7 linked regions of the Homo sapiens genome follow. Changing the gene in region 7 together with the main gene of any one other region gives a genetic interaction. Each region holds a gene or a part of one and is shown on either strand. Other genes may lie near its edges.

Region 1 (4,648 bases), on a different chromosome or scaffold from region 7:
CATACGAAAAGCTCCTCCAACTCAACAATAAAAAGACAACCTAATTTTAAAACAGGCAAATGATTTGAATAGACATTTCTCCAAAGAAGATGTACAGATGGGCAAATAAGCACATGAAAAGATGCTCAACATCATTACTCATTAGGAAATGCAAATCAAAACCATAACAGGTGCAGTGGTTCCCACTTACAGTCCCAGCTACATGGGAGGCCAAGGCAGGAGGATTGCTTGAGCCCAGTAGCTCGAGGCTGTAGTGCAATATGATTGTGCCTATGAACAGCCACTGGACACCAGCTTAGGCAACATAGCAAGATCCCATCTCTTAATTTAAAAAGAAACACAAAACCATAAGAAGATATCACATTCTACCCACCAGGATGGCTGTAATCAAAAAGACCGCACAGACAAGAATATGCAGAAATTGGAACCCTCATAGAGTAATAGTGGGAAAGTAAAGTTACAGCCACAGTGGAAAAAAAGAATTTGGCAGTTCCTCAAAAAGTTAAATGTAGTCTTATCATATGACCCGGCAATTCCATTCCATACCTAAGAGAAGAGAAAACTGTGCCCACACAAAAGCTTACACACTAACGCTCATATCAGCATGATTCATAATAGCCATAAAACGGAAACAACTTAAATGTCTTATCAACTGATGAATGAATAATGTGAGATAATAATGGAATATTATTTGACCATAAAAAGGAAAGACTTACTGATATATGCTACAGTGTGTGTGAACCTTGAAAACATTATTTTAAGTAAAAGAAGCCAGACGTAAAAGACTGCATATGGTCTGGTTCCCTTTATGTGAAACATTCAGAAAAGGCAAATCTATAGAGACGAGTTAGATTGGTGGCTACCAAGGACAGGGGAAGGGGAGAATGGAGAGTGGCTGCTACTGGGCCCACAGTTTCTTTAGGTTGATGCAGATATTTTTGAATTAGATAGCAGAAGTATTAATAGCTGCACAAGTTTGTGAATGTACTAAATTGTACGCTTTGAGAGAATGAATTTTATGTTAATATATCTCATTTTAAAAAAGAAAACACTGCCTCTGTGTATGTGCAGTGACTCACTCCCCTACCCTCAGTGGCAAGGTCATGGGACCCTTCCTCAGACACTGCATTTGAAAGAGGCAGCTGTAGTTTTGGAAACAAGTAACATTCCTACCCTGCTTCCTGTCCACCATGAGGCAAGAGGAAGTGTTTCATTGCCTATATCTACAGTTGTAATTAGCCTCCCCAGAGAACAGAAAATCGTATATCTTATGCATAGAGGGTGTGAACTTTCCCACCAACATGTAAAGCATTAACAAACCTAGACCATGTATAGCTATAAACAGCCCTTTCCATGTGTTGATTTGGATTATTAGTTTTGGGATTTTTTTTTGTGTGTGTGTTACTGTTGTTTTTGTATGATGAGGCCTTCCTTTGATTAAGTTGGATTATTTCATTCCAGTTAAGCATGAAATAGCATAACCTGGATCCACATTTTCCAAAAAATAGAAAGTCCTCATGTGAACGTGGATATTTTCTTCTGTTTGGTAGGAGATTCATCTCCATTTGGTCCATTAGGTTCAAGTAAACTTTTAGGCTATGGAGGATTAGGACAGTGGCCCTATGCTCCATTCTGGGAGTATTGGCAGTAAGGGCAGGGTCCATTCATAAAATGGATCCTCTTCAAGGAAAGCAAACTTTTTAAGGGAAGGGGTTGTAGAAAAATGTATAGATATGTGTGTGTCAGGAGAAGGGAAATAGTTCGGAGTTCACGAAGCACACCAGTTTTATAGCATGGCAGGGCAGAGTTCTGATGAGTAAAAATTGGATTAGGTTGAACTGCAGAGATGCTTATACATACGTGAATCATTTAACTAATGTACTTGTGCTTCTTTTCCTTCCCAGTAATGTGCTTTGGTAGAAATATGCTTTTTCCAGATGTGCCCTGCCACTGTTGACTGATTTAATTACATAGAGCAGCTTTCCATTTCCTTTGACACAGGCAAGCAAATAGAATAAGATTAGCACACTAGAGAGGGGTGAATAGTTTAGTGTTTGAATTTACCTTCTGTAATATGTTTGGGAGAGGGCTTAATAGAATTGCTGCTACAGTCTACTTCCCTTTTGTTTCCCATGTATTTTTTCATCGGCTTGCATCACGTGGATTTATAGATTAAAGTGAAAAACCCGGGATATCTGTGTTATTCTCTCCATCATTCTGAAATTGCTGGAGAAAAAATTGGCTTTTAATTTATACACTCTCGTGTTCAAAATGATTATCATCTCACAAATCATACAGTGTGCATTAGACTGCTTCTCAAACTTCAGTGTGCATCAGATTGACTGGGATCTTGTTAGAATGCAGATTCTGCAGATCTAGGGTGGGGCCAGCTTTTCTGCATTTTTAACAAGCTCCAGATGATAATGATGCTTCTGGCCCAGGACCATATCTTGAGTAGGAAGGAATTAGGATACTATATTTGGACAGTAAACATTCTTCCTGCAGTGAGACTGAGGCTGGTAGTCAAGGCCATGGCTGGGAAATAACTATTCTTAAATTGGGATGCATCATCCAAGTAGAACAGCATCACATGTTATACCATCTAGAGCTACTGGGTTAAGTTTGCAAATACTTCGTATAGATCACAGTTATCTTTATCCCAGTAAAGTTCTACTCCAGTTTTTCACTTCCAAATCATTTAAGTAGTTTTAAAGTACCATTTAACAAGTATTTACTCTAGATTGTGGAGCACGCTTGAAATATGAGTGTACGCTTCTGCACGCCCCTGTGTTTCCAGCTCTCTATTGGAGGCATCATCATTCTGAAGGATACCAGTGAAGACATTGAGGAGCTGGTGGAACCTGTGGCAGCACATGGCCCAAAAATCGAGGAGGAGGAACAAGAGCCAGAACCCCCAGAACCATTTGAGTATATTGATGATTAAGGGCCAGAGGTGCGTGTGCAACAAAATTATGAAGGGAAACTTCTTTGTCAATACTTCACAAATGTTTTTTGCAAGGACATCATCTCACGTTTTTCCTTCCTTTTGTGTTTAATCCTTATTTACCTAAACAGTATTAAAACTTCCCCGTTTCAACCTTTTTCTGCATATATAACCACAAATTCCTTTTTCTTTCCTCTTTGACTCGTACTCTACTCACGTTATTCAAAGTGGCTGGTCTGCAAACTATTTTTATAGGTCCATAAGGAGATAGGAAGCTTACTCCAGAATCTGTCTGCTCAACGCTTCTTTCATCAAGAAAGTCTTCCCCAAAACATCAGCTGAACTGCAGTTTGCTTAGTGATAGAGCTGATTTACATTCTGATGTAAGCTTCTTGTTGTGGATCAGTTATAGTTGTGGACTGGCACTGGCCCATAGGTGACACTTTTGAGTAGCACAAATATAGGCTTCTCACTGATTTTTCTCTCTCCCCATCTCCTTCGACAGTATTTTTGGCATAGAAGCCTTAACATTCATTCATTCTATGATGGTGCTATTGAATATCTACTGTGTATAAGACATAGTGCTTATAGGGACTTTGAGGTCAGTTAGACTAACCACAAGGCTGTGTCCATTGACAAAGATCATTTACTATATCAGTGTCTTAACAGTGTTGAAAGGGGTCTTTAGATGGGAAAGTTTGGAGTAATCTAATTTCATGAAATTGTCGTTCTTCATTTCCCCATTTTCTTTTGAGTGTTCATCACATATTTGAAGACATTGTGAGACATAATCAAGGTTTCCTAATTCCACCCAAGCACAAACACGTTTTCAGACAATTTTTTTTTTTTTTTTTTTTTTTGAGACGGAGTTTCGCTCTTGTTGCTCTTGGCTGGAGTGCAATGGCGCAAACTTGGCTCACCGCAACCTCCGCCTCCTGGGTTCAAGCGATTCTCCTGCCTCAGCCTTTCGAGTAGCTGGGATTACAGGCATGCGCCACCACACCCGGCTGATTTTGTATTTTTAGTAGTGACAGGGTTTCTCCATGTTGGTCAGGCCGGTCTCAAGTTCTGGACCTCAGCTGATCCGCGAACCTCGGCCTCCCAAAGTGCTGGGATTACAGGTGTGAGCCACCACGCCCGGCCAATTCATTCTACTCTTTAAAAAAAATAAGGACAGTATCATTTGTTATATTTAAAGGTCTGGTTGCAAATCTAGCATGCTGTGTGTTAGATACTGACTAGCAATTTAGGAAAGATTTGCAGAAATCTCAGATAAATATTAAGGTAGAAACCTGCCATTAGTAGGAAAATATATTTATACCTCAGGAAGACTATTAGTTTGGGCCTTAGAGAAAGGCAGATTTATACTAACCTTCCTATTTTCTAAACTTACTTTTGAAAATTATCTTTCAGCCTTGATAGTTTCCTAAGCTTTACCCAACTTGCACAGTACAGCGTAGGCTATCATGATCACTCAGTCTGTCTGAGAATTGAGGTGACTCACGTTAGCTCCCATCAAGCCTTTGGCAATACCTCATGGAAAACCCTTGATTACAGCTTTCAAGGCAGTTAATTACAAAATGACTTAGAGGTTTATAGCTGGAAACTGGAATCTTGTTAGTTTTCAAAGGGGTAAAATATTCAGTCCATTAGGAGTTTGGAAACTATAATCTGTCGTGGCACAAACTGGTATATTAGGACTGC
Region 2 (4,648 bases), on a different chromosome or scaffold from region 7:
TTTGGAATCCAAAGGTCTTGTTGTGGGGTTTGGTTTGCATTACTATTTACCATTCTATTTGGAGAGGCCAGGGCTTTTCCTCTACCCTCCCTGCTTTATACTATTTTTCTTAGTATTTAACTCTCTTTTCTTCATTATACTTACTCTCATTTTAAGCTTTGTTTTGTTCTTTCGTGTTTTAAAGTTTTGTGTCTGTATTAGTCCATTCTTACACTGCTAATAAAGACATTTCTGAGACTGGGTAATTTATAAACGAAAGAGGTTTGATTGACTCACAATTCAGCATAGCTGGGGAGGCCTAAGGAAACTTACAATCATGGCAGAAGAGGAGGCAAACACATCCTTCTTCATGGGGCGGCAGGATGGAGAAGTGCTGAGCAAAAGGGGGAAAGCCCCTTATAAAACCATCAGATCTCGTGAGAACTCACTGTCACAAGAACAGCAAGAACTCACTATCACAAGAACAGCATGACCTCCCACCAGGTCCCTCGCATGGGAACTACAACTCAAGATGAGATTTGGGTGGGGACACAACCAAACCATATCAGTGTCTGATTATAATAACTGACTCATTCATAATAAGTATCTTTAGGGGTTTGAGTTACCCGCAAATCAAAGGTTTATTGTGTCTGAAGAACAGATTTATTCAGTATGCTTCTGCCTCTACAATAGGTTCTCTTTGAAGTAGATTTAACAATGTTACATTTTTAAGGACTTTTATATTGTCTGGTACATTGCTCTTACCCTCTTATGGTAATACAAGAGATTTTATACCTGTTTGGAATTTCATTTGTAAATTCTAAGATTTGAGCCGGGCATGGTGGCTTATACCTGTAATCCCAGTGCTTTAGGAGGCTGAAGCTGGAAGTTTGCTTGAGGCCAGGAGTTTGAGACCAACCTGGGCAACAAGTGAGACCCTGTCTCAGATGAATGAACGTAAATTATAAAATTTTAAACTTTGCAATCTCAGTAAATTTATCCATATCTGGAAAGAAATCATCAGCTTGTCTTTTCTCAGATTGAACTACAGATTATTGTTTCATAAGGATCCTTGATAAAACTAAGTTTGGATCAAATAAAATCCGGTTGCAATATGATTCAATATTATTTTCCTGAAAAACTTTGTTTTCTCCAGGATACTATATTGATAAACATAATTAAGACTTATCTGCATAATAATATTAATAATGTTTATTGAGCTCTTTCTGTATACCAGGCAATGATATGCACTATCTTATTAATCCTCAGGACCAAGACTATGAGATACTGTTAAACCTCACTTTACAAATGAGCAAACTCAGGCTTGAAGAGGTCACAGACTCTGGTAGAGGTGTGATTTGGAACTAAGTCATTTTGATTCCTGTTGCCAAATCAGTCACTTGACTACTAAATGTTGCCTTTCCTAATGAATGCTGTGTAAAGAAGGAATGAAAATAGGATCTACCTAAATTGATGCCTTTAGCTCCCCAAATTAGGAACATCTTTCATACCTTCCACAGTATATCTCATGCTTTCTGCCTAGTCAGTGGAGTAGAACTTGAAACTCCAGAGGTAAACAGTCTCCAAATACCATTGAAACCTATAAGAAATAAGTTAATATGTCTTAGATGCCTTTTAAATTAACACCTGCCAATTTGGAATCTGAAGTAGTTCCTATTGTGAACTATCCAAGATGAATTTCACACTTGACATCCTCACAGGTTAGTCGTAAATTGTGCTGTTCAAGAAGTGACATCCTTTTCAAGAGAAGATGACATGAAATGGATTCAGAATGTTTCTGTATATGATAGTCTTAACCTCTCCTCTAATTAAAGAATTTAATGATGAGACTTTTGTTGAATGATAAGATCCCCTTCAGCTCAGTATGGAATTCCACACTGGGCTGAGCGCAGTGGCTCACGCCTGTAATCCCAGCTACTCGGGAGGCTGAGGCAGGAGAATTGCTTGAACCTTGGAGTCGGAGATTGCAGTGAGCTGAGATTGTACCATGGCACTCCAGCCTGGGCAACAGAGCGAGACTGTCTTAAAAAAAAAAAAAAAAAGTAGTAGTACTAAGTATGAGTACTGGTATTTCTTAAAACCTATAATGAAATTACAGAAATCTCAGTCTTCCTTGAATACTAATATTCAGTTTTTAACTTATTGAAATAAAATGGAAATAAATATTAGTTAGACTGGAAATTCTTTGTTTTTTTTTTTTTTTTTTTTGAGATGGAGTCTTGCTCTGTCGCCCAGGCTGGAGTGCAGTGGCGTGATCTCAGCTCACTGCAACCTCCCCTTCCCAGGTTCAAGCAATTCTCCTGCCTCAGCCCCCCCAGTAGATGGGATTACAGGTGCGTGCCACCATAACCAGCTAATTTTTTGTATTTTTAGTAGAGACAAGGTTTCACCATGTTAGCCAGGATGATCTGGATCTCCTGGCCTTGAGATCTGCCTGCCTCGGCCTCCCAAAGTTCTGGGATTACAGGCATGAGCCACCACACCCAGCCCTGGAAATTCTTACATGGAAATTCATTTTTAAATGAAAAGGTCTTGAGGGTAACTAATAGATAATTACATCAAACTATCTATTGCAAACCCTGTATTTATCTGACGTTAATTTCCTTCCTTCCTTTCTTTCCTTTCCTTCCTTCCCTTCCTTCCCTTCCTTCCTTCCTTCCTTCCTTCCTTTCTTCCTTCCTTTCTTCTTTCCTTCCTTCCAAATTTCACTCTTGTTGCCCAGGCTGGACTGCAATGGCATGATCTTGACTCACCATAACCTCCGCCTCCCAGGTTCAAGTGATTCTCCTGCCTCAGCCTCCCAAGTAGCTGGGATTACAGGCATGCACCACCACGCCCCACTAATTTTGTATTTTTAGTTAGAGACAGGGTTTCTCCATGTTGGTCTCAAACTCCTTACCTCAGGTGGTCTGCCCGCCTAGGCCTCCCAAAGTGCTGGGATTACAGGCGTGAGCCACTGCGCCCGGCCAATTTTCTTTCTTTTTTTTTTTATTTTGAGACAGAATTTTGCTGTTGTTGCCCAGGCTGGAGTGCAATGGCACGATCTCGGCTCACTGCAACCTCCTCCTCTCAGGTTCAAGAGATTTTCCTGCCTCAGCCTCCCAAGTAGCTGGGATTACAGGCGCCTGCCACCATGCCTGGCTAGTTTTGTAGTTTTAGTAGAGACAGGGTTTTTCCGTGTTGGTCAGGCTAGTCTTGAACTCCCGACCTCAGGTGAATCCGGCCTCCCAAAGTGCTGGGATTACAGGCATGAGCCACCGCACCCGGCCCTGCTATTATATTCTTTACGGTTCTCTCTTAGTCAATTCCTCATCATTCTAGTCCCCTTTTATGCTTTTATAGGTATTCCTTTTTTCTTTCTTTCTTATTTTGAGATGGAGTCTTGCTCTGTTGCCCAGGCAGGAGTGCAGTGGTATGATCTTGGCTCACCACAACCTCTCTCTTTGGGTTCAAGTGATTCTCCTGCCTCAGCCTCCCAAGTAGCTGAGATTACGGCTGCCTACCAACACGCCCGGCTAATTTTTGTATTTTTGGTAGAGACAGGGTTTTGCCATGTTGGCCAGGCTGTTCTCAAACTCCTGACCTCAGTTGATCAGCCCGCCTTGGCCTCCGGAAGTGCTGGGATTACAGGTATGAGCCACCATGCCCAGCCCCCTTTTGTAGGTATTCTTTATGTTAAACTTTCTCTCTTCAAATTACTTTATGCTTTCTCTTTGATGAAAGGACCCTGACTGATAGAGGTAGGTAATGGATCATAAAATCAAATAAGGCTGAACAGAGAATTAAGCCTGGAGTAAAATAAGACAGCCCCAGTGTCATGATATATGGCAGCTGACCTTCAGTGTCAGTGCCTGGGAGTCATTAGGGAGAAGTGAGAACTGTGGGCATCTAAAGGGCACATATCATTTGATGACACCAAATCTTCCTATTTTTCCAAAGCTAGAAATCTGGATTTTTATATGAAGTCTCCTGAATTTTATCCTTTGGCTACTTATTCAAATATTGTATCAGTGCGTGGGCCAAACAACCCATGTTTGTGAGTCTACAAGCCTCTAGACTGCCTGATTTCTAAGCCCTCTGAATGTAGAAGGGGTGGGCAAGCAAGTAGAGGAAGTAAGTTACAGCATGGCAGTGGGGATGGGAGAGACAGAAAAACATTTTGAATTATTACACAACGTCAAAGTGCAGTTGTTTAGAATCACTTAGTAGAGGGGAAAACATCTCTATGTTCACATTAAAGACACTATGTTCTCTAATTTGACTATAGTATAATAATTAATGACACATGTCAACTGATATGTCAGGTTCTACGTTGATTTTAACAGTAACCTTGAAAGGGAAGAATTCTTGTCCTGCTTGTAGATAAGGAAACTGGGCCTCAAGTTTAGTAAGTACAAATCCCCTATTTATATAGGCTTTAATTAAATTAACAATTTTTTAAAAGACGCTGTGGAAAATTTGGAAAATACGGTAACGTATAAAAGGAAAATAAAATTATCTATTATCCAACTGTTCAATTAGAATCACTAATAACATTTTTGTTTCTTTTTTTCTATTTGTTTGCATTTTTAACATAGTTAATTATGGTTGATATGTACCATTTACATTCTCCCTTTTATAACCTGGTAGTATATCATAAGCATTTTCC
Region 3 (4,648 bases), on a different chromosome or scaffold from region 7:
GTACATTCTATATGAAGAATGTGTTAACTTGAGCAGAATAGTCTAAATGGCAATGATAAAAGCAGGTCCAGGAACCAAAGTTCAGGTGTATGCCTCCTGTAGTCTTTAGGGAATGAGTGCTGTAACCCAAGCTCGTCTCTGTAGGGTGAGGATACACCCATCAATCTGTCTTGGCTCAGTAACACTGTCCATTGAGATCACCCAGCCATGTTTGCACTTTCTACATATTATACTCCCTGGGCAACCTCCTGATTATTATAATTTGCCATCCACGCTAGATTTGCCCCCGGGGAAACATATGGGGTGATAAGGGAGAAATAACTGATCCTCTTGAAACAATTTTGCAATTCAATTTTATACATTAATATCTTGTAAATTTGACTAGTTTGAGTAAACTCCTTAGAGCTTGACCATCTCTGGATGATCAAATTTTGGATCTCAAAAAGCTGAGCTGCAGCAATGGTGCCCACATCTCAGTACAGCTGCTCTGTGGGGACACTTCAATGGTATGGTTTTTTTCCCCAGGCTAATCTATTCTCTCACATGAGGCATGCTCTTCAGTTATCCACAGAAATGGAATCAACTTAACTCATTATCAGCTCTTCTTACACCATATCCCTCCCTCTAAGACTCAATTTTAAGTCCTCTTTAAATTGTTTTCCCCCAGACCTATCCATTAACAAATGGAAGGGAAAGGAGTAAGAAAGAATAAGTGGATTAGAAAGATTTAAAAGAAGCAAAATGTATTCTAGAGTTAGAAAAGTTTGAAAGGGAGGGGACAGAAGAGAAAAAACAGGGTAATAAAGATGGGAATAAAGACTAAATGGGTCCCTGCTGTATCTGAATGCTTCTTTCTGAGCCATTCTGGTTCTCATAAATGTATTACCTGATTTATGATCCTGTTCCTCTTCATCATCTGAATGCCTGTGTTCTTCATCTGAGGCCTGTGGCCTTTCATCATCAGAATTTTGCATTTTCTCTTCATCAGACAGCTGTGGTTGTTCTTCATCATCAGAATTCTGTTTCTCATCATCATTATCAGAAGCTACCGGCCGTTCATCATCAGAATTAGCCTTTTCCTCCTCAGATAGCTGTTGTCTCTCATCATCGGAAAGCTGAGGCCTCTCCTCATCATCTGTGTTCTGCATTTTCTCATCATCGTCAGAATTCTGCAGCTTATCTTCATCAGATCCTTGTGCCCTCTCCTCATCATCAGAATTTTGTATCTTTTCATCATCTGACTGGTCACTTTTATCTTCTCTGCCCCATTTTTCATCATCTGAATGTGCTTTTTCAGAACCTTCTGCTTCTGAATGATGGCTCCCTCCATCCGATCTATGACCTTCGTCTTCATCATCATTAGGGGCTTCTGATCCACTGTGCTGATCTACATCTGAGGGGTCATTGTCCTCATGGTCAGAACGCTCAGAAGCTTCTGATCTATTGTCTGATCTTTCAGAGTGATTATCACTACCACTATGATGTGAAGCTCCCTCGTCCTCACTGTCATCTCCAAACAGTTCCTTATTACTTGGTTGTCCTGAATCACCTCTTTCATCCTGATCACTTTCACTTCCAGAGGCATTACTGCCAGAGGCAGCATTCTCTTGATCAGAATCTGAGTCAGATCCAGAATCAGAATCTATGGGGTCATATAAACATAGGATAACATAAGCAAAAAAAGGCAGAGTAAGGCAGTCCCAAAGTCCATCCCAACATAAAAGCAATGAAGAAACTGGCAAAAACTGTTAGAATTAACATTCTAAGGCCGGGTGCAGTGGCTCACGCCTGTAATCCCAGCACTTTGGGAAGCCGAGGCAGGCAGATCACCTGAGGTCAGGAGTTCGAGACCAGCCTGACAAACATAGCGAAACCCTGTCTCTACTAAAAATACAAAATTTAGCCAGGCATGGTTGCACATGCCTGTAATCCCAGCTACTCAGGAGGCTGAGACAGGAGAATCACTTGAACCCGGGAGGCAGAAGTTGCAGTGAGCGGAGATCAAGCCACTGCACTCCAGCCTGGGCGACAGAGTGAGACTTTGTCTCAAAGAAAAAAAAGAAAAAGAAAAAGAAAAATATATTTACTAAAATCAAAGAGTCACTAGAGGGGCTCAACCAAAGATTTGAGCAGGAAAAAGAAAGAATCAGTAAACTTGAAGATACCTCAGTTCGACTGTCCAATCTGAGAAACAGAAAGAAAAAAGAATAAAGAGAAAGGAACGGAGTCTAGAAGATTTATGGGACACCTTAAGTTATACCAATGTATGCATAATGGAGTCTCAGAAGAAGAGAAATGAGCAGAAAAAGATTCTTAAATAATAGCTGAGGCCAGGCATGGTGGTTCACACCTGTAATCCCAGCACTTTGGGAGGCCAAGGCGGGCAGATCACTTGAGGTCAGGAGTTCGAGACCAGGCTGGCCAACATGGCAAAACCCCATCTCTACTAAAAATACAAAAGTTAGCCAGGTATGGTGGCGCAAGCCTGTAATCCCAGCTACTTGAGAGGCTGAAACAGGAAAATCGCTTGGATCCAGGAGGTGGAGGTTGCAGTGAGCCGAGACCACACCATTGCACTCTAGCCTGAGTGACAAAGCGAGACTCTGTCTCAAAAGAATAAATAAATGATAGCTGAAGAACTCCCAAATTTATGAAAAATATAGATCTACACATCCAACAAGTTCAACAAATGACAAGTAGGATAAACTTACAGAGGTTTACACCTAGAAACATTGTTATCAGACTGTCAAAGACAAAGAAACAATTCCAAAAGCGGGCAAAAGAGAAGCAGTTCATCCCATATGAGGAACGCTCAATAAGAGTAACAGCTGATTTTTCATCAGAAACCAAGGAATCCCAGAGCCATCCATAAGAGGACACATTCAAAGTGCTAAAAAGAAAGACTGTCAACCAAGAATTTTATATTCAGTAAAATTATGCTTCAAAAACTAAGACGATATGGAAGACAAAAGAAAACATAAATTGGACTTCCACAAAATGAAAAACTTTTGTGCAGCAAAGGACGTTATTAAGAAAGTAGGCCCGGCGCAGTGGCTCATGCCTGTAATCCCAACACTTTGGGAAGCCAAGGTGGCTGGATCACCTGAGGTCAGGAGTTTGAGATCAGCCTGGCCAACATGGTGAAACCCCATCTCTACTAAAAATACAAAAATTAGCCAGGCATGGTGGCTTACGCCTGTGAGCCCACTACTTGGGAGGCTGAGGCAGGACAATCGCTTGAACCCAGGAGATGGAGGTTGCAGTGAGCCAAGATCATAGCACTGCACTCCAGCCTGGGCAACAGACCAAGACTCCATCTCAAATAAATAAATAAATACATAATATTGCTAAGTTAAGTTCAAAACTGGTTAATGTCTTAGAGGACAATAAAATCTTTTGGCTGGGTGCGGTGGCTCATGCCTGTAATCTCAGCACTCTAGGAGCCCAAGGTGGGAAGATCACCTGAGGTCAGGAGTTCCAGACCAGCCTGACCAACATGGTGAAACCCTGTCTACTAAAAATACAAAAATTAGCTGGGCATGGGGGCACACGCCTGTAATCCCAGCTACTGGGAATAATGAGGCATAAGAATCCCTTAAACCTAGGAAGCGGAGGTTGCAGTGAGCCGAGATCGTGCCACTGCATGAAAGGGGAGACTCTGTCTCCAAAAAAAAAAAGTAAGTGAAGGCCAGGCGCAGTGGCTCACGCCTGTAATCCCAGCACTTTGGGAGGCTGAGGTGGGTGGATCACGAGGTCAGGAGTTTGAGAACAGCCTGGCCAATATGGTGAAACCCCATCTCTACTAAAAATACAAAAATTAGCCAGGCGTGGTGGTGCATGCCTGTAGTCCCAGCTACTTGGGAGGCTGAAGCAGAATAATCACTTGAACCCAGAAGGCGGAGGTTGCTGTAAGCCGAGATTGCGCCACTGCACTCCAGCCTGGGCGACAGAGCAAGACTCCGTCTCAAAAAAAAAAAGGAAAGTGAAAAAACAACCTACAGAATGGAAGAAAATATTTGCAAACCATGTATCTGATAAGTGTCTTTATCCAAAATATACAAAGAACATTTATAACTCAACAATAAAACCAATTTCTTTGTGTTTTTTGTTCGTTTGTTTTCTTGGAGACAGAGTCTCGCTCTATCCTTCAGGCTGGAGTACAGTGGTGCAATCTTGGCTCACTGCAACCTCTGCCTCCCTCAAGCGATTCTCCTACCTCAGCCTCCCAAGTTTATGGGCGCACGCCACCACACCTGGCTAATTTTTTTGTATTTTTAGTAGAGATAGGGTTTCACCATGTTGGCCAGGCTGGTCTCGAACTCCTGACCTCAGGTGATCCACCCACCTCAGCCCCCTAAAGTGCTGGGATTACAGGCGTGAGCCACTGTGCCTGGCCTAAAACCAATTTTTTTAAAACAGAGGACTTGAATAGACATTTCTCCAAACAAAGTTACACAAATGGCCAATAAATACATGAAAAGATGTTCAACGGCTGGGCGCAGTGGCTCACACCTGTAATCCCAGCACTGTGAGAGGCCGAGGCAGGCAGATCACCTGAGGTCAGGAGTTTGAGACCAGCCTGGCCAAAATGGCAAAACCTCATGTCTACTAAAAATACAAAAATTAGCAGGGTGTGGTGGCAGGCGCC
Region 4 (4,648 bases), on a different chromosome or scaffold from region 7:
GGTAATAGAGCCCACGTTGAGAAAACACTGAGATTGATTTGTTAGTGACTGATCACTAACAAAAACATGTTTCCCAGTGAGCACGAAGTGGAAGACAAGTCTGTCTGCTATGGGCATTATTTCACATTTCTCATAGTGTGATGACCTAACTTTCTGTGTGATTCTAATATGTGATTTTGGTATGAGAAAGCCCAGTAAGGCAAGTCATCTACTAGGTGAATAGTTTAATGGATTTTTAAGGGTAATTCTTATGATATGTTTATATTGCTAATTTATCTACTGCTTTAATGTTAAGTCTAACCCCTGGATAAAATGTGACTTTGCTCTTACGCTGAGGTTGGAAAAAAAGCTTAAGTTGAAACCATGCTTGTGATTATTATACTATTTCCCCTTTTGTTTCCTTTCATCAGCCCATCTGAGTTTTTATTAGTGACTTAAGAGCATTAAAGATGGAAAGTGACCACTGGAGACAGAAAACCTAAGCAGGTTTATAATTTAGTTGGGAAGAAAAGATAGAAAAGGAAAAGGAGGGCAAGGTAGCTTATACTGATTACTTGTAGGCAGTAAGTACGGTAGGACTGGGAGACTTAGGGAGACCGTACAGCAGAGTTGTGAATCCAGCTAGATACTATACTTAGACTAAGACATCAATATTTTTGTGGGAAAAGTATCCTAATGACTTTTTTTTTTCTTTTAAGAGATAGGGCCTCACTCTCCGATGCAATGGTGTGATCATGGCACACTGCAGTCTCAGCCTCCTGGGCTCAAGGAATCCTCCTGCCTTAGACTTCCAAAGTGCTGGGACTACAGGCATGCACCCGGCAAATTTTATTTTTTTGTAGAGACAGGGTCTTGCTATGTTGCCCAGGTTGGTCTCAAGCTTCTGGCCTCAAGTGATTTTCCCCCTCTCAGCCTCCCAGAGGATGAGGATTATAGGCATGGGATGCCATGCCTGGCCTCTCTAATTACATTTTAATAACTAGCAATCATTATTGCATTACAAATGGGGATTTTTTTTTATCATACTATGAATTTCTCAAATAGAAACTTATATTGAAATCATGTTTTCCCCTGCAGTCTCACACCATTTTGCTGGTACAGCCTACCAAGAGGCCAGAAGGCAGAACTTATGCTGACTACGAATCTGTGAATGAATGCATGGAAGGTGAGTTTAACACTAATCAAGGGGTAGAAAAATGTCTCATTTAGGAACTGGGTTTTTCCCCTCCAAATTTTTTTTTTTTAATAGTCCATCCACCCCAGGCCCTGCCTTTATCACTTCCAACCCTCCAAATTTATTGAATTGCTAATTTTAGGAGGGAAAGCAGATATTTAGGATGGACCATAATTATTGAACATTTTATTTATTTGTTTGTTTATTTATGTATTATTTGAGACAGAGTCTCGCTCTATCACCCAGACTGGAGTGCAGTAATGCGATCTCGGCTTACGCAACCTCCGCCCCCCAGGTTCAAGTGATTCTCTTGTGCCTCAGCCTCCCAAGTAGCTGGGACTACAGGCATGGGCCACCACACCCAGATAATTTTTTGTGTATTTAGTAGAGATGGGGTTTCACCATGTTGGCCAGGCTGGTCTCGAGCTCCTGACCTCAAGTAATCCGCCTTGGCCGGTTGAACATTTTAAACATTAATTATGTATATAGTATCCTCCTTGCTACAAGTATTAGGTGTTTTTTTTTTTTAAACTAATGTATATAATGAGTGACTTTCCAGAGCTGCTTGTTGTTTTATAAATATTCTCTTCTTATTTGTCACATGTTATTTTGTTACAGTATGGAAATATTTTACAGGTATCCCTTATATATTCTGGTTAAGCTCAAACACTATAGGCTTGTGTGTCTGTCTGTTTTTAATAGGTTGTTTTAATAGATTTAAGGGATACAAGTGTAGTCTTCTTATATAGATATATGGCATAGTAGTAAAGTCTGGGCCTTTTTTTTTTTTTCCTTAAGACACGGGGTCTTGCTCTGTCACCCAGGCTGGGGTACAGTGGTGATAATGGCTTATTGCAGTCTCAGTTTCCTGGGCTCAAGCAGTCCTCCTGCCTCAGCCTCCCAAATAGCTGGGACTAGAGGCACCTGCCGCCACACCTGGCTAATTTTTTGGTTTTTTTATAGAGATGGGGTCACTGTGTTGCACATGTTGGTCTCAGACTTCTAGCCTCAGGCAGTTCTCCTGCCTTAGCCTCCCAAAGTTCTGGGATTACAAGCATGAGCCACCGCGCCAACCAAGTCTGGGCTTTTATTGTAGCCATCACCTGGTGTACATTGTACGCAGTAGTGATTTTTCATCCCTCACCATTCTCCCACCTTTTGTAGTCTCCAGTGTCAGTTATTCCACTCTGTCTGTCCATGTGCACACATCATTTAGCCTCCACTAATAAATGAGAACATTAAATGTTTGACTTTCTGAGTTACTTCACTTGAGATAATGACCTCCAATTCCATCCATGTTGCTGCAAAGACATGGTTTTATTCTTTTTTTAATAGCTGAGTAGTATTCCATGGGATGTGTGTGCATGCATTCTCATACACCACATTTCCTTTGTCTAGTCATCCATTGATGGATACGTAGTTGATTCCATGACTTTGCTGTTGTGTATAGTACTGCCGTAAACGTATGAGTGCAGGTGTCTTTGTTTCTTTTTGTTTTTTGAGACAGAGTCTCACTCTGTCGCCCAGGCTGGAGTGCAGTGGTGCATCTCAGCTCACTGCAACTTCTGCCTTCTTGGTTCAAATGATTCTCCTTCCTCAGTCTCCTCAGTAGCTGGGACTACAGGTGTGTGCCACCACGCCCAGCTAATTTTTGTATTTTTAGTAAAGACAGGGTTTCGCCACGTTGGCCAGGCTGGTCCCGAACTCCTGACCTCAAGTGATCCACCCACCTCGGCTTCCCAAAGTGCTGGGATTACAGGCGTGAGCCACCACTCCAGGCCATCTACTCTAATTCTTAAAGAAGAACATGGCATTTTTTTCTTCATCTCTTTACAGATCCATTTCTCTGCTGACATTTCTGCCTGCTATTGATGTAGATTTTGTATGCAGGCTCTCTTAGCAAATTGTTACCTAACCTACATTATCATGTTTGGTCTTTGATTCTGCAATACTCTTATTTCTCAGGGCAGTTTCAGGGTTCTAGAAAAATTGAACAGAAACTACAGTTTTTCCGATATTACTCTCTTTCTTCACCCCTACACAATTTCCCCTATTATTAATGAATTTCACTGGTGTGGTGCATTTGTAACAGTGGTGAACCAGTATTCATTACTGATACATTGTCATTAAGTAAAGTTCATAGTTCATACTAGGTTTCATTCTTATGTCCTACATTACTGTGGATTTTCCCAAATGCGCAGTGTCATGTGTCCGCCATTACAGCATCACACAGAATGGTTTCACTGCCCTGCCCTAAACATTTCTTGTGCTCTACCTATTCATCCCCTCCTACCCCACCCTCAACCTCTGGGAACCATTGGTCTTTTTACTGTCTCCATAGTTTTGTCTTTTCCAGAATGTCATATAGTTGGAATCATTATCGTGTGTGGCTTTTTCTTAACTGGCTTTTTTTACTTAGCAATGTGCATTTATTATGTTTCCCCCATGTCTTTTCATGACTTGGTAGCTCTTTTTCTAAAAATTAAAAGTGGTGATTTATTTCCCATTTAAAAAACTAAAACAAAAAAATGTTAAAATAATTATTAAATAAGTTCTCACATGATGTGGTTGCCAAATGGTAATTTTATTATTCTTTTTTTTTTTTTCTTGTAGTAAATATTCCCCTGTAGATCAGAGCATTTTTTTCCTCCCCCCTTTTTTTTAAGAGCAGTTAAAGACTTTATTTAAGACCATGTTTTTAGAGCAGTTTTAGGCTTATGGGAAAATTGTTTGGAAAGTACAGAGCTCCAGCATACGCCTTCTTTCCTCCCCTTCTTAGTTTCCCCTATTAGTGCATCTTCTATTAGTCTGATTACACTTGTTGGGATTGGTGAATTAATATTCATAGATTATTATTAACTAAAGTTCGCAGTTTATGTTAGGGTTTACTGTATGTGTTGAACATTCTGTGGGTTTTGACATGTATAATTACGTGTATCTACCTTTACTGTATCATACAGAGTAGTTTCACTACCAGAAATCCCCATTGCTCCACCTATACCTCCTTCCCTGCCACCACCCCCAAACCCCTGATCTTTTTACCATATCTGTAGTTTTGCCTTTTCTGGAATGTCATGTTAGAGTTACGGAGTATGAAGCCTTTTCAGACTGGCTGCTTTAACCTAGCAATATGCTTTTTTTTTTTTTTTTTTTTTTTTTTTGGCGTGCGAGACAGAGTCTTACTCTGTCACCCAGGCTGGAATGCTGTGACGTAATCTCAGCTCACTGCAACCTCTGCCTCCCTGGTTCAAGCGATTCTCCTGCCTCAGCCACCCAAGTAGCTGGGATTACAGGCCTGCGCCACCATGCCTGGCTACCTTTTTTTGTATTTTTAGTAGAGACGGGTTTTACTGTGTAGGCCAGGCTGGTCTCAAACTCCTGACCTCAAGTGATCCGTCCACCTCAGCCTCCCAAAGTCTGGGGATCACAGGCATGAGCCCCCATGCCTGGCCAACCTAGCAGTATGCTTTTATG
Region 5 (3,911 bases), on a different chromosome or scaffold from region 7:
TACAGATGTCCTGTACTGTTACTAATACTTTAGTGTAAATCTGCGATGTGTCCCTGTGTAGGTAGGTCTTATAAAAAGGAGTTAGAAAGGTAAATGAATTAAAATACTAACACATATTTCTAAAATTAAACTTATTTAAAATTATATCTTTTTATATTGATGTTAAGAAATTTTTTAGGTAGGATAATAGTATGGTGATTTGTTTAAGTCTCTAGAAATAATGTATCAAAGTATTTATTGATGATATGGTATCTTGGAATTTCTTCAGAATCACCTGGGAAAGAGTAGTAGTTAGGGATGTAGATGAGACAGGATTAGATAAGATGTTCATTATTCATCTTTTGCTCTTGTTCTCTCTGCCTTGTAGCATGAAAGGTCTTTTTCATTTTTAATCCCTATTACTAGAATAAAACACAGAAACAGACAAACTAATGAAGTCTGTGGCAACAGGTCTGCCATAGGTTAATGTTTCAAGTAGCAGTATGTTTTTTGTGCTCTTAACTATTATTTTAGGTGATATAACTATTTTCCACTGTTAGCCTGTGGACTGTTAACTGTACATTCAAAAGGTAGTCCTGATGTATAGCAAAACATGAAAAGCACTGCATTACTGTGATAAAAGTGGTTCTGTTTTATGGGGAATAGTTGTTTGTTAATGACAGTGCAGTATTGACAAATTTATCTTCATGATGCCTCTTTTTCCATGGTTTTATTGTAATGAATCTTACTTTCTTGTTCTAGGCTGCTGAAAATATGACAAGCTGACTTTCTGGAGAAATTCTGATGAGATATGTCAAGCTCTGCAAGAGGGTTTGAAGATTGCATTGTAGTTGAGAATGTACAATGAAATTACTGCATGCAGCAGTGTAGAAAAATTTTACTTTTTAAAAGAATTATAAAACCATAGCTTTATAAATCAGTGGAAAGTGGCTTACAGAGAGAACTATCAGATGTGTTTACATCACATCTTATTCACTTTTTTTAACAGCTCTAATGCTTTGGCATTGCTATGTTCATATTTATGTATTCCTTATTTATAGCTCTGATAGCTTTAATTTTCTAAGCAGTCTGTCTATCAGATGTGCACATCTGCTGTGCCAGGTTGAAGTATAGTGGAACCCATCAGTAGTAATGTGTAGTAGTTATGACTTGTTGACATTTCCATTATAAACTTTAATTTTGAATTGTTTATGCATTATAACTGTGGATTTATATTGTATTGGGCTGAAAGTTGACAGGATTTCAGCCACCACTTGTGAATTTTTATTTAGATTCATTATGTATATCAGAATCTTGTTTTTTGAAATAAGAGCATGGAAAACATTTCTTGTAATCTACTCTTGAACAAAGAATATTTAGTTTTTCAAACAGTTTGTTGGGCAGCTAATAGTGTGAACCAGGTCATTTTTGTATTGAGTAAAAAAATCAAACTTTGAGAAACTTGGATTTTAAAAGTAATGACAATGCTTAGGTTAGTATTATTTGTAATTTGAATCATTTACATCTAATGAGAATGTTAGTTGAGAATGTTTTCTTAAAGTTTTATATCCTATAAATAACGGAATAAAAAAATTTGTAAAATGAAACAACAAACATGCAAAATTCCTATTTACTTTTATTACATAAAAGTAATTTTAGTGCTTACCTAATAAATCTTGAATGGTTATTTAATAAATTATTAGATGGGTGATGTGTTTCAAAAGATACTTGCTATTTTTTGAAGAAATAAGGATTTCCAGTCATTAAACAAAACTAAACAATCTTATTAGATGGGTGATGTGTTTCAAAGGATACTTGCTATTTTTTGAAGAAATAAGGATTTCCAGTCATTAAACAAAACTAAACAATCAAATGTTCTATATTAGGAATCTCAAGTATGGCTTTTTTTAAAAAACCTTTTTAACATCTTGATGTCAAGGATTATAAGTATGGCTTTTCAGAATTGTTTTGTTTGTCATTATTCTTGCCTTTAAAATTTTAACTCATCAAAGTGAAGATTAGAAATAAATTTTAGAAAATGTAGAATAGTATTGATTCTGTTCCTGTAATAGAATCTCAGTGGAGTTTTTTTGCAAAACTAATATGGATTTCATCTGATTTTATTATTTCTTAAATTTTAGATTTTATTGAGTACCATTTATATGATTGTACAAGCATTCACTCTTTACTAGCATTTTTTGTTTTTCAGACAAGCTGAAGTGGTTTTATTAAGATTTGGTAATATTTAAATAGCAACCTTCTCTGCCTTTTTTTTTTTTTAATATAGAATTTTGACCATTTTGACTTTTTAAATGCCTGGCATCTTTACCAACCAAGTAAACTGGAAGATCTGTTACTGGTAGAACAGGTTGAGGAGACAGTAGGAATTTGTAAAAAGTCATTTGATTTATAATCAACACTACAAATACTATGTGTTATTTATAAAATCATAAAGAACACTTTTGTCAGACTCCAAAATTTGTATATACTTCCAGGCCATAAGAGTTGATAGTATTATTTATGACTTTGTAGATTAAGTTATTTATGTATGAAACAAAGCAGGAAAATATATTGAGAAGGGATCGTGTTTACAGAGGACTTCTTTAAAGTGTCACATTTTTAAAATGTAAACATATTTTTAATGCATACTTAAGTAATATTTAAGAAACTAAACAAAATAATGATACAATTGCAGTGTTGTGCTTGTTGTCAATGACAAAAATAAAACCATTTTGGTGGTATTGGCCTGTACTTTTGTTTTAATATATGCTTTTGTTAATTCAACTTGTGTTTCTATAGGACAAAAGATACAGAACATAAAATTTACCATTTTAACCTTTTTTTTTTTTTTTTTTTGAGATGGAGTCTCACTCTGTCACCCAGGCTGGAGTGCATTGGCATGATCTTGGCTCAATGCAGCCTCCGCCTCCTGGGTTCAAATGATTCTCCTGCCTCAGCCTCCCGAGTAGCTGGGATTACAGGCACCTGCCACCATACCTGGCTAATTTTTTGTATTTTTAGTAGAGGCGGGGCTTCACCATGTTGGCCAGGCTGGTCTCAAACTCCTGACCTCAGATGATCTGCCTGCCTCAACCTCCCAAAGTGCTGGGATTATAGGCATGAGCTACAATGCCCTGCCCTTTTTAACCATTTTTAAGTTTCATAGTTCAGTGACATTCAGAATATTCTTATTGTATTGTAACTATCACTATTGTCCATCTCTTGAACTTTCTTATCCCAAACTGAAACTCTGTACCTGTTTAGCAGTAACTCCCCATTGCTTCCTCCTCCCAGCCCCTGGTAAACAGTTTCCTACTTTTTTGTCAATGAATTTGACTATTCTGGATACCTCATATAAGTGGAATCATATTTGTCCTTTTGTGTTCGTCTTATTTTACACAGCACGTCTCCAAGATCTATCCATGTTATAACATGTATCCAGATTTCCTCTTTAAGGATGAATATGTCTCATATATACATGGGAGACAGGTATTCTTTTATATATATGGTGGACATTTGGGTTGTTTCTACCTTTTGTCTATTCTGAAAAGGCTATTCACAATAGCCACAATGTTATGGGCATTGGTATACAAATAACTGTTCAGGTCCTTGTCAGTTCTTTGGAGTGTATACCCAGCAGTGGAATTGCCAGCTTTTAAACATTTTTTTTTAAGTTTAACTTTAATTCCATAGGCATTAGAGAAAGAAGGGGACATGGTCAAGCTTTTTTTGGGAGTTGCTTTGCTAGTGACATGTAGGCTTGATTTGAGCAGGGAGAGGTTAGAAGCAGAGACTAGTTAGAACACTACTGAGTAACCCAGGCCTCAATGCTCACATCTGGGTAGATTCAAGAGACATTACAAAAAATAAACATAGGACTTAATGGCAGGTTATGGGGAAAATAGAAAAGAAAATAAGGTGACTGAGTTTCT
Region 6 (4,648 bases), on a different chromosome or scaffold from region 7:
ATTTGCAGGTAAATTATACACTTCAGTATAGATAACTGAAATTTTGAATACACTACCAGTTTAGAATAATGTGTTAAAGTGAAAAAGTCACTGTATACTTATCTTACCTTGTTCAGTAACTACCTTTATCTAATGTGGGACACAACAAAGGCGTATTTAGTCTAAAGTTACATGTATTTGATTTGTTTTGTATATTAGTAATAAAGCAGTAAATGAATTGGACAGTTGCTTGAAATGTTGTCTGGCGTATCTGTATAATTTTAGTGATTTAACATGTCACTTAAGTTATTGAGGAATGGGAAATAAGTACTATGACTTGGCTAACAATTTCGGAGGTAACTAGTTTAGTCGTGGACAGTATTTTTTAAGGAGGTTAGCAAATGATGTTTAGTTGCCATTGTGATCTTCTGAAACTGAGTTAAGATTTAACTGTATTTATTAGAAAAATAATCAGGCTTATTTTGAACACTGAGTTGTCACTATTTTTAGGTCCTTACTGCACACTGAAGTATTGTACACAAGAAGCTCATTATTTAAGTGATCTTTACGTGGCATACACAAATGTATTACCTGTAAAATTAATTTTAGTTAAAAAGTGTCTGAAAGGAGATGGTTACTTTGTGAGTTTTAAGTTGTTTTTGGGTATTAGATCTTGATGAGCCTGAAGGGGTCGGATGAAAAAGAAGAAAAATGCTATGCATATGATGGAAATCAGCCTAAGCCAAGAAGAGCATGGAAACAAACTATGGGGTTGCAGGGTTGTGGGGAGCAGTGGGAGGGCATATGGATGTGTGAGTGGGATAGGGAGCTACCTTTTTTTATGAAGGAGATGGTTAGGAAAAGAGAAGAACAGAGGGCAAAGATGGATAAGAATGAATGAATGTGAGTCAGCCTAAATGTTTATTGTAGGATAGTGAGGAGCTGTGAAGATAGAGGGAGTGATATATTACAAATAGCATACAGTCACTTACTGTGTAGTGACATACCCATCAACAAAGAATCTTGTCCCATAAGACTGTAGGACTCGTAAGAGGTACCTATAATACCATATTTTACTATACCTTTTCTATGTTTAGATACACAAGTATTTTCCATTGTGTTACATTTACCTACACTATTCAATACAGTAACATGCTGTGCAGATTTGTAGGCTAGGAGAAACAGGTCATACCATATATCCTAGGTATGTAGTAGGCTATACCATTTAGGTTTGTGTAAGTGCATTCTGTGATGTTCACACAATGAAATCACCTAATGAGTGTATCCCTGTCATTAAGTGACACATAACTGTATTAGGTTGATAATAGCGTAGCAAAAAGCTATGTGCAGAAAAAATACTCATCCCATTATTACTTTCTGTGGGAAAGAGTTGGAAATCATCTAAATTCTTTGAAATAGAAAATTAGTTAAATTATAGTTTGTCTCTTAAATATATGTGGAAGTAATTGTGCACATATCAACATGGAAAGGTATAACAAATGAAAAAATACATAATTATGGTATTGGAATGCAGTGTTAGGTGGTGAGACTGTTAGTGCTTTCTCCCACTTCCTCTCTGTTGCCCCCAGGGGTTTTAAAATATAAACTTGGTTTTTTTGAAATCAAAATTATAATTAAGTTATAATTAAAGTTGAAAATCTGGTGACAATTTGTAGGAAAGGGAGTGATTATTTTTATTTTGTGTGTGTATGTGACTGCTCTGTAAAGGCCAGAGGAAACGTTGTAATGTAACATATTTGCAGGTGTTGCTTTCTTGGGAACAGGAGAGAAAATAATTGCCCATTTTTATGTGGGTTGCAGCAGATTTTGTTTCAAATGTTATTTGTTCTGTTAACCTTCATTTTTACATTACTGATAAGGAAATTCTTAATTTTAAGATGAATTTAATTTTTCATGGATTATTCATTCTTCATATTCCTCTTCATTGACTTATTGACTATTCTACTAATTTGTTTGAAATGTATCAAGCAACCGAAGAGGTAGACAGACTCAATTTGTCTATCCTACTAACGTGAGGTGTAAAATTGTGGGCAGTAAAGTGCTTTTATTATTTTAAAGTAAGTTTATGGGTTTACCTAGAAATAGTATTTTTACATAATAAAACTATAGTTTTAATGTTTTAATACTCAAGTTCTATTCAAGTGTAATTTTACAATACTTTACAGTTCTGGAGGGCTTGTGATATTTCTAACATTGATATTTCCTTAGATAAGTCACTTGAACTCTCTTGAGTTTAAATTCTCTCTATATAGTGAGAATTACATTTGAGTCTCAGAACATTTAAATTTAATAAATAGAAATGGTCAGGACTTTGCTATCAACAGTAACTGCTGTTAATATTTTTTTCTTTTGCAGATATAATAATTATTAGATTTATATTTAAGGACCCTTTGGATATAATAATAACTAGACTTAAGCTTTTTTAGGTGTGATCCCTGGATCACTTACATCAGTAGCATCTGACTGTTAAAATGCAGAATCTTGAAACCCACCTCAAACCTGTTAAATTCTTGATGGTTCAGGTAGTTGGTAGGCACATGGAAGATTGGGACCAGATAAGTGTCATGTTTTAGCTGATAAAGAGAGGGAGGCATAAAAAGCGACTTATTAAGGTTGCCACCTGTAATTAGCTCAAAATAAGGCATGATCTATGAAATACTATTCATCCAGAGTTACATTTACTGACTAGGTGTTATATTCCTTTCATGTCCATTCCAAACAACCCATTTCTGTTTTCATTTAGAGTCTCTCCATTTTTCTTTTCTTTTCTTTTGAGACGGAGTTTCGCTCTTGTTGCCCAGGCTAGAGTGCAATGGCGCAATCTCGGCTCACCACAACTTCCGCCTCCCGGGTTCAAGCGATTCTTCTGCCTCAGCCTCCCTAGTAGCTGGGATTACAGGCATGTGCCACCACGCCCGGCTAATTTTTTATTTTTAGTAGAGACGGGGTTTCTCCATGTTGGTTAGGCTGGTCTCGAACTCCCGACCTCAGGTGATCCGCCCGCCTCAGCCTCCCAAAGTGCTGGGATTACTACAGGCATGAGCCACTGCGCCCGGCCTCCATTTTTCTTTTTAACTTTAATCAACAAACCACTGTCCAGCATATAAGAGCCTCTGCATGGCTGGGCGCAGTGGTTCATGCCTGTAATCCCAGCACTTTGGGAGGCTGAGGTGGGTGCATCACTTGAGGCCAGGAGTTCGAGACTAGCATGGCCAACATGGTGAAACCCCGTCTCTACTAAAAATGCAAAAATTAGCCAGATGTGGTGGCGCATGCCTGTAGTCCCAGCTACATGGGAGGCTGAGGCATGAGAATCCCTTGAACTCAGGAGGCGGAGGTTGCAGCAAGCCGAGATCATGCAGCTGCACTCCAGTCTGGGTAACAGAGTGAGACTGTGTCTCAAAACAAAAAACTGTGCACAGTTTTACATTCTTTGTTAAATTTGCCCTATTTGCAGAACCACTTAGGTCAGAGAGTCCCTTACATGTTCTCAAAGAACTCACAGTAAAGATAAGTTGTATCTGTATGCTTCATAACATAGCTGCTCAGAAGGTAACTGTTAGGTTGCTTGTTCTATGATTGTGATCTGAGAAGAAAGGATAAAATAAGGATGCTACATGGATCACAGACCCTGCAATTTTTCTTAATTTATTCTGAGCCCTGTTTTGCCTCAGGCTTCACAGTTTTCTGTGATGTTCTGGCTGAGATTAACTGTGTTGAAACAGTGAACAGATGTCTCTTGAATCTAGTTGGAACCAGTGCCACCAAAGAATCTCAACCCCAAATGATACATTTAGCTTGGCCTATGCTTTTACTTCTACTTGGATCGTGGGTATTTAATTGCTGATATTTAAATAACAGTGATAATCCCATTAATTTATAACCTTCTTATATTTTGGTGGCTGTAGGTTTTCATTTATGCCTTTCCTATAACTGTTTTAAACTGGCAATTAGAAGAAAAATTTAAATTATTCAACAGAATACAAAGAAAACTAGATCTCTGCCTCTGGATATTCAAGCTTTGATGTGGACTTGTTCTAGTCTTTCTACTTCTGAGAGCCTGAAAAGGGGGAAAAAAAATTCAGTATTTTTGACTCACTCTTGATGGGTGAAGTAAGGTGTATATTAGAAAAAGAAACCAAGCTTTTAAGTGATACTTAGTGGATATTTTCATTACTCACTGACCACTCTTCCATGTATATATATATCACCTCCATCACAGAATATACCACCTTGTTAATTTAACTCTAAAATACTTCTATTTCCCTGGAAAATGTCAAAGTTTTTCCTGAGGTTTAAAACAAGTTATATAAGATCTGAGCATTCAGGCCAGGTGTGGTGGCTCACAGCTGTAATCCTAGCATTTTCGGAGGCTGAGGTGAGAGGATTGCTTGAGCCCATTTATTCACAATCAGCCAAGGCAAAATAGATCCAATCTCTAAAAAATTAAATTTAAAAAAAGGTCTGAGCAGGCAATATTCACTTTCAAGAAAATTCATGTAAGGTTATGTGGCATGTTCACTGGGCAAAGTTACTTATGTTTTCCCTTTTCCATTATGCCTGTGTTCTAGCCCTTCTCTTTGTTTCAAATGTATCCCTGCCTTAGTTCTCTACATAAGGCTTTACCTGGGTTTTCTTTCAAGCTTAA
Region 7 (4,648 bases):
GGGCTGAGGGGCATGAGAAAAACCATGAGACCTGGAGGACCAAAGAACTGGAGAGATGGAAATTTGGGATGATGGAATCAGAAGGAAGAAATGGCGGAGAGTAGGTAATTAGGTGCAAGAGTCTAGGCAGTTATGAGCACTCTGAAGAACAAGCTAAGGTACTTTGGTGTAAAATAAGAGTTGTATAGAACTGAGGTCAAATCCTCGTTCTGCTATTCATTTGCTTTAAGTCTGTAGGTAAATTACTTATTCACATTTTGCTTTTCTTGTTTATAAAATGGGGTATATACCTAATGACTCAGGAAATTTAGGCAGGAGGATCACTTGAGGCCAGGAGTTCATAACCAGCCTGGACAACATAGTGAAACCCCATCTCTTAAAAAAAAAAAAAGCAGGGGGTGATAATGTTGACTTTAATGATAATCATGAGAACGTGAAGTCAGCAGATTAGTCCTTCATGAGATAAATTGCTTTAAAAATCTCTTCATTTTATGGTATTGCTTTAAAAATCTCTTCAGTTTGGGCCAAGCGCAGTGGCTCATACCTGTAATCCCGGCACTTTGGGAGGCCAAGGTGGGTGGATCACTTGCAGTTGGGAGTTCCAGACCAGCCTGGCCAACATGGTGAAACCCTGTCTCTACCAAAAATACAAAAATTAGCTGGGCATGGTGGCGCATGTCTGTAATCCCAGGTACTTGGGAGGCTGAGGCAAGAGAATCATTTGAACCTGGGAGGTGGAAGTTGCAATGAGCCGAGATCACACCACTGCACTCCAGCCAGGGCTACAGAGCGATTGGTTTGGACCACTGTAAGGAGAGTGACTCCCAGGTTTTCCTTTCTTTTTTTTTTTTTTTTTTTTTTTGAGACAGAGTCTTACTCTGTCGCCCAGGCTGGAGTGCAGTGGTATGATCTCGGCTCACTGCAAGCTCCGCCTCCTGAGCTGGAGATTCTCTTGCCTCAGCCTCCCAAGTAGCTGGGATTACAGGTGCCCGCCACCATGCCCAGCTAATTTTTTTGTATTTTTAGTTGAGATGGGGTTTCACCATGTTGGCCAGGCTGGTCTTGAACTCCTGACCTCAGGTGATCCACCCGCCTCACCCTCCCAAAGTGCTGGGATTACAGGCTTGGGCCACCCCGCGGCAATTCCCAGGTTTTCAACATCAGTAACTGGCTTAGGAGACCCTGAAGGAGGAGCAAGTTCAGTGGGGAAAAAACAAATTTATTTTTGAACATGTTGAATTTAAGGAGTTTGTGAGCAATTCATGCAGTGATGAGAGGTCAGTTAAATATGCAAATCTGGTGTTCCAATAAGAGATCTGGGCTGAAAATACAAATTTGGAAGTCTTTAGAATATGGGTGGTAATTGACAATATTGGAGTGCATCTGAGCATGTAGGGAGAAAGCTCAGAGTGAGAAAACAGAGGCCTGATAGAGTCCTGCAGACACTAAAATGTGATAGTTTCATACAAGAGGAGGAGCTTTGAAAAGAGCCTGGAAGTGACCAACGAGTTGGAGAAACCCAGGAGAGTTTGTGTTAAAAATGCCAGGAAAGAGAATGTCTCAAGAGAGTAATTGCTGCTGAGACGATGATTAGTAGAACTGAGAAGTGCCCATTGGTTTTGGTGAGATAGAGGTCAGACATTACCTTAGCACTTTTTGGGGACCAAGTCGAATCAAAGTATATTGGGGAGCAAAACTTTTCAAGCTTGGCCATGAAGGGTAGAAGAGGGAATGGAAGCTACAGAGGGGTGTGAGATTAAGGTAAAGTTGTTTTTATTTTATTCGAAGATATTAGAAATTATGTCTTTCATGAGAAAGAACTGAGTTTAAAGAAAGAGAAGAAAAAACGGTTATTAATAGTGTAGGTTTTTGGAGATGGGAGGCAAGGCTGGGAACCAGAGCAGCATGGTGGAGGAATTGGCTTCAGATGGGGGAAGGGAGAAAGAAAGTGTGGTGGCCGGGCGCCGTGGCTCACACCTGTAATCCCAGCACTTTGGAAGGCTGCGGCGGGTGGATCATCTGAGGTCAGGAGTTCGAGACCAGCCTGACCAACATGGAGAAACCCTGTCTCTACTAAAAATACAAAATATTAGCTGAGTGTGGTGGCACATGCCTGTAATCCCAGCTACTTGGGAGGCTGAGGCAGGAGAATCACTTGAACCCGGGAGGCGGGGGTTGCGGTGAGCCGAGATCGTGCCATTGCACTCCAGCCTGGGTAACAAGAGTGAAACTCTGTCTCAAAAAAAAAGAAAGAAAGTGTGGCTTAGCTGAGTGCAGTGGCTCATGCCTGTAATCCCAGCACTTTGGGAGGCCAAGGAAGGAGGATCGCTTGAGCCCAGGAGTTCAAGACCAGCCTGGGCAACATAGTGAGACCCTGTCTCTGTTTAAAAATGTGGCTTACAGTTGTAGGTTTGTAATCCAGAGGGAGGGCATGGCGGAGGTTCTCACCTGATGTCTTTTTCATTATGCAGCACCATCTGTCAAACATTAAGGATACAGCTGGAAGCTTGAGGAGACTGAGGAGCATTTAAATAGTTATTGATGTGGGATATTGAGCAGTATTGAGGGACCTGCTGAAGGCTAGGACCATGAATTTATGGTGGTTCCAGTCTGTGCTGTTATTTTTCTCCAGTAGCACTCAGCAGTCCAGATCAGGGCAAGGGAATTATTGACAGGAGAGTGACTGAAGTGATTGAAATGATACAGTGAGCAACCTAAGCATGATTTAAAAAGGAAAATGTGACTGGGCGCGGTGGCTCACATCTGTAATCCCAGCACTTTGGGAGGCCGAGGCAGGCGGATCACAAGGTAAGGAGTTCGAGACCAGCCTGGCCAACATGGTGAAACCCCGTCTCTACTAAACATACAAAAAATTAGCCAGGCATGGTGGTGCGTGCCTGTAGTCCTGGCTACTCGGGGGGCTGAGAATCACTGAGGAGAATCACTTGAACCCGGGAGGCGGAGGTTGCAGTGAGTGGAGATCGTGTCGCTACACTCCAGCCTGGGCAACAGAGTGAGACTCAAAAAAAAAAAAAAAGTAAAGTGACATGGAAAAGAAGGTTGTTAGAGATGAGGTGATAAACTGTGGCCATGCAGTGTTGAAGGGGCTACCCATGTGCACTTCGAAGTCACCAGGGTGACCCTAAGATGATGGGAATTGGGGTAGAGACGAAGAGTGGAAACCACTGCCAAAGTCTTCAGTGAATGAAGGAGTGACCATGACTAGGAAGGAGAGAAGTTAATCTAGACTCTTGGCACAGGTCTCAAAAGAGAAGGGAGTTTGCTGGTAGGCAGAAAAGCAGTGCTCTGAAAGCTACAGGGTGGGGCCCAGTAGGACATAGGTATATCCTGTAGGGATGTAAGAGAATGAGCAACCTCCACCAGAGGTCTGCAGAGAGGAGTGGTGGCCTCAGTGAATGACCAGGTTTCTGTTAAGGCAAGTCATGGAAGGAATGCTGAGTGAGGAGCTTGAGGATATAGATGAGTTGGCAGATTACAGAGCACGAGTTCCAGAGGGTGTAGGCAAGTGTTTGAAAGTAGAGGGGTTGGGCCAGGCGTGGTGGCTCACGCCTGTAATCCCAGCACTTTGGGAGGCTGAGGTGGGCGGATCACGAGGTCAGGAGTTCCAGACCATCCTGGTCAACATGGTGAAACCCCGTCTCTACTAAAAATACAAATATTAGCTGGGCATGGTGGCACGTGCCTATAGTCCCTGCTACTCAGGAGGCTGAGGCAGGAGAATTGCTTGAACCTGGGAGGGGGAGGTTGCAGGGAGCCGAGATTGTGCCACTGTACTCCAACCTGGCGACAGAGCAAGACTCTGTCTCAAAAAAGAAAAAGAAAGTAAAGGGGTTGAGGCGTTGGAAGACTGGCTCAAAGGAGAGAAAGCAGTATTATCAAACAGTTCAAGTGCAAGAGAGGTTCAATCATTGGAAGGGTTTCCAGAGTACTCTTTTTTTTTTTTTGAGACGGAGTCTTGCTCTGTCACCCAGGCTGGAGTGCGATGGCACAATCTCAGCTCACTGCAACCTCCGCCTCCCAGGTTCAAGTGATTGTCCTGCCTCAGCCTCCCGAGTAGCTGAGATTACAGGTGCAAGCCACCACGCCCAGCTAATTTTTGTATTATTAGTAGAGACAGGGTCTCACCATGTTGACCAGGTCTGTCTCAAACTCCTGACCTCAGGTGATCCACCCGCCTAGGCCTCCCAAAGTGCTGTAATTACAGGCATGAGCCACCGCACCTGGCCTCCAGAGTACTCTTTTATGGTCAGACTTTAGGGAATTGTGTTCATCATAACCATATTTAAGGACACAGAAATCTGGAGTTCATTCAGAGGAAGGGGACGAGGAATATTTTGATTCATTTTTTTTCGTATGTTTGTTTTGTCTTTGGAGATGGAGTTTCACTCTTGTTTCCCAGGCTACAGTGCGATGGTATGATCTTGGCGCACCGCAACCTCCGCCTCCCAGGTTCAAGCAATTCTCCTGCCTCAGCCTCCCGGTAGCTGGGATTATAGGCATACACCACCACATCTGGCTCATTTGGTATTTTTAGTAGAGACGGGGTTTCTCCAAGTTGGTCAGGCTGGTCTCAAACTCCCGACCTCAGGTGCTCTGCCCACCTCAGCCTCCCAAAGTGCTGGGATTA

Evidence for each region.
Region 1: changes in VPS72 (region 7) and PSMD1 together harm fitness more than expected from each alone (negative genetic interaction), as found in Homo sapiens cells (one large-scale study listed by BioGRID).
Region 2: changes in VPS72 (region 7) and SLC39A9 together harm fitness more than expected from each alone (negative genetic interaction), as found in Homo sapiens cells (one large-scale study listed by BioGRID).
Region 3: changes in VPS72 (region 7) and LEO1 together harm fitness more than expected from each alone (negative genetic interaction), as found in Homo sapiens cells (one large-scale study listed by BioGRID).
Region 4: changes in VPS72 (region 7) and ERH together harm fitness more than expected from each alone (negative genetic interaction), as found in Homo sapiens cells (one large-scale study listed by BioGRID).
Region 5: changes in VPS72 (region 7) and MZT1 together harm fitness more than expected from each alone (negative genetic interaction), as found in Homo sapiens cells (one large-scale study listed by BioGRID).
Region 6: changes in VPS72 (region 7) and YTHDC1 together harm fitness more than expected from each alone (negative genetic interaction), as found in Homo sapiens cells (one large-scale study listed by BioGRID).

Annotation. Positions count from the first base shown.
Region 1 is NC_000002.12:231,167,769-231,172,416, forward strand, and holds part of PSMD1 (26S proteasome non-ATPase regulatory subunit 1), read left to right. Parts: intron 1-2,797; coding exon 2,798-2,944; 3' UTR 2,945-2,953; intron 2,954-4,648. UniProt on the Homo sapiens protein: Component of the 26S proteasome, a multiprotein complex involved in the ATP-dependent degradation of ubiquitinated proteins.
Region 2 is NC_000014.9:69,404,661-69,409,308, forward strand, and holds part of SLC39A9 (zinc transporter ZIP9), read left to right. Parts: intron 1-4,648. UniProt on the Homo sapiens protein: Transports zinc ions across cell and organelle membranes into the cytoplasm and regulates intracellular zinc homeostasis. Participates in the zinc ions efflux out of the secretory compartments.
Region 3 is NC_000015.10:51,964,863-51,969,510, forward strand, and holds part of LEO1 (RNA polymerase-associated protein LEO1), read right to left. Parts: intron 1,643-4,648; coding exon 887-1,642; intron 1-886. UniProt on the Homo sapiens protein: Component of the PAF1 complex (PAF1C) which has multiple functions during transcription by RNA polymerase II and is implicated in regulation of development and maintenance of embryonic stem cell pluripotency.
Region 4 is NC_000014.9:69,391,342-69,395,989, reverse strand, and holds part of ERH (enhancer of rudimentary homolog), read left to right. Parts: intron 1-1,077; coding exon 1,078-1,165; intron 1,166-4,648. UniProt on the Homo sapiens protein: May have a role in the cell cycle.
Region 5 is NC_000013.11:72,707,176-72,711,086, reverse strand, and holds the end of MZT1 (mitotic-spindle organizing protein 1), read left to right. Parts: intron 1-741; coding exon 742-765; 3' UTR 766-2,720; downstream 2,721-3,911. UniProt on the Homo sapiens protein: Required for the recruitment and the assembly of the gamma-tubulin ring complex (gTuRC) at the centrosome.
Region 6 is NC_000004.12:68,325,362-68,330,009, reverse strand, and holds part of YTHDC1 (YTH domain-containing protein 1), read left to right. Parts: coding exon 1-8; intron 9-4,648. UniProt on the Homo sapiens protein: Regulator of alternative splicing that specifically recognizes and binds N6-methyladenosine (m6A)-containing RNAs.
Region 7 is NC_000001.11:151,179,636-151,184,283, reverse strand, and holds part of VPS72 (vacuolar protein sorting-associated protein 72 homolog), read left to right. Parts: intron 1-4,648. UniProt on the Homo sapiens protein: Deposition-and-exchange histone chaperone specific for H2AZ1, specifically chaperones H2AZ1 and deposits it into nucleosomes.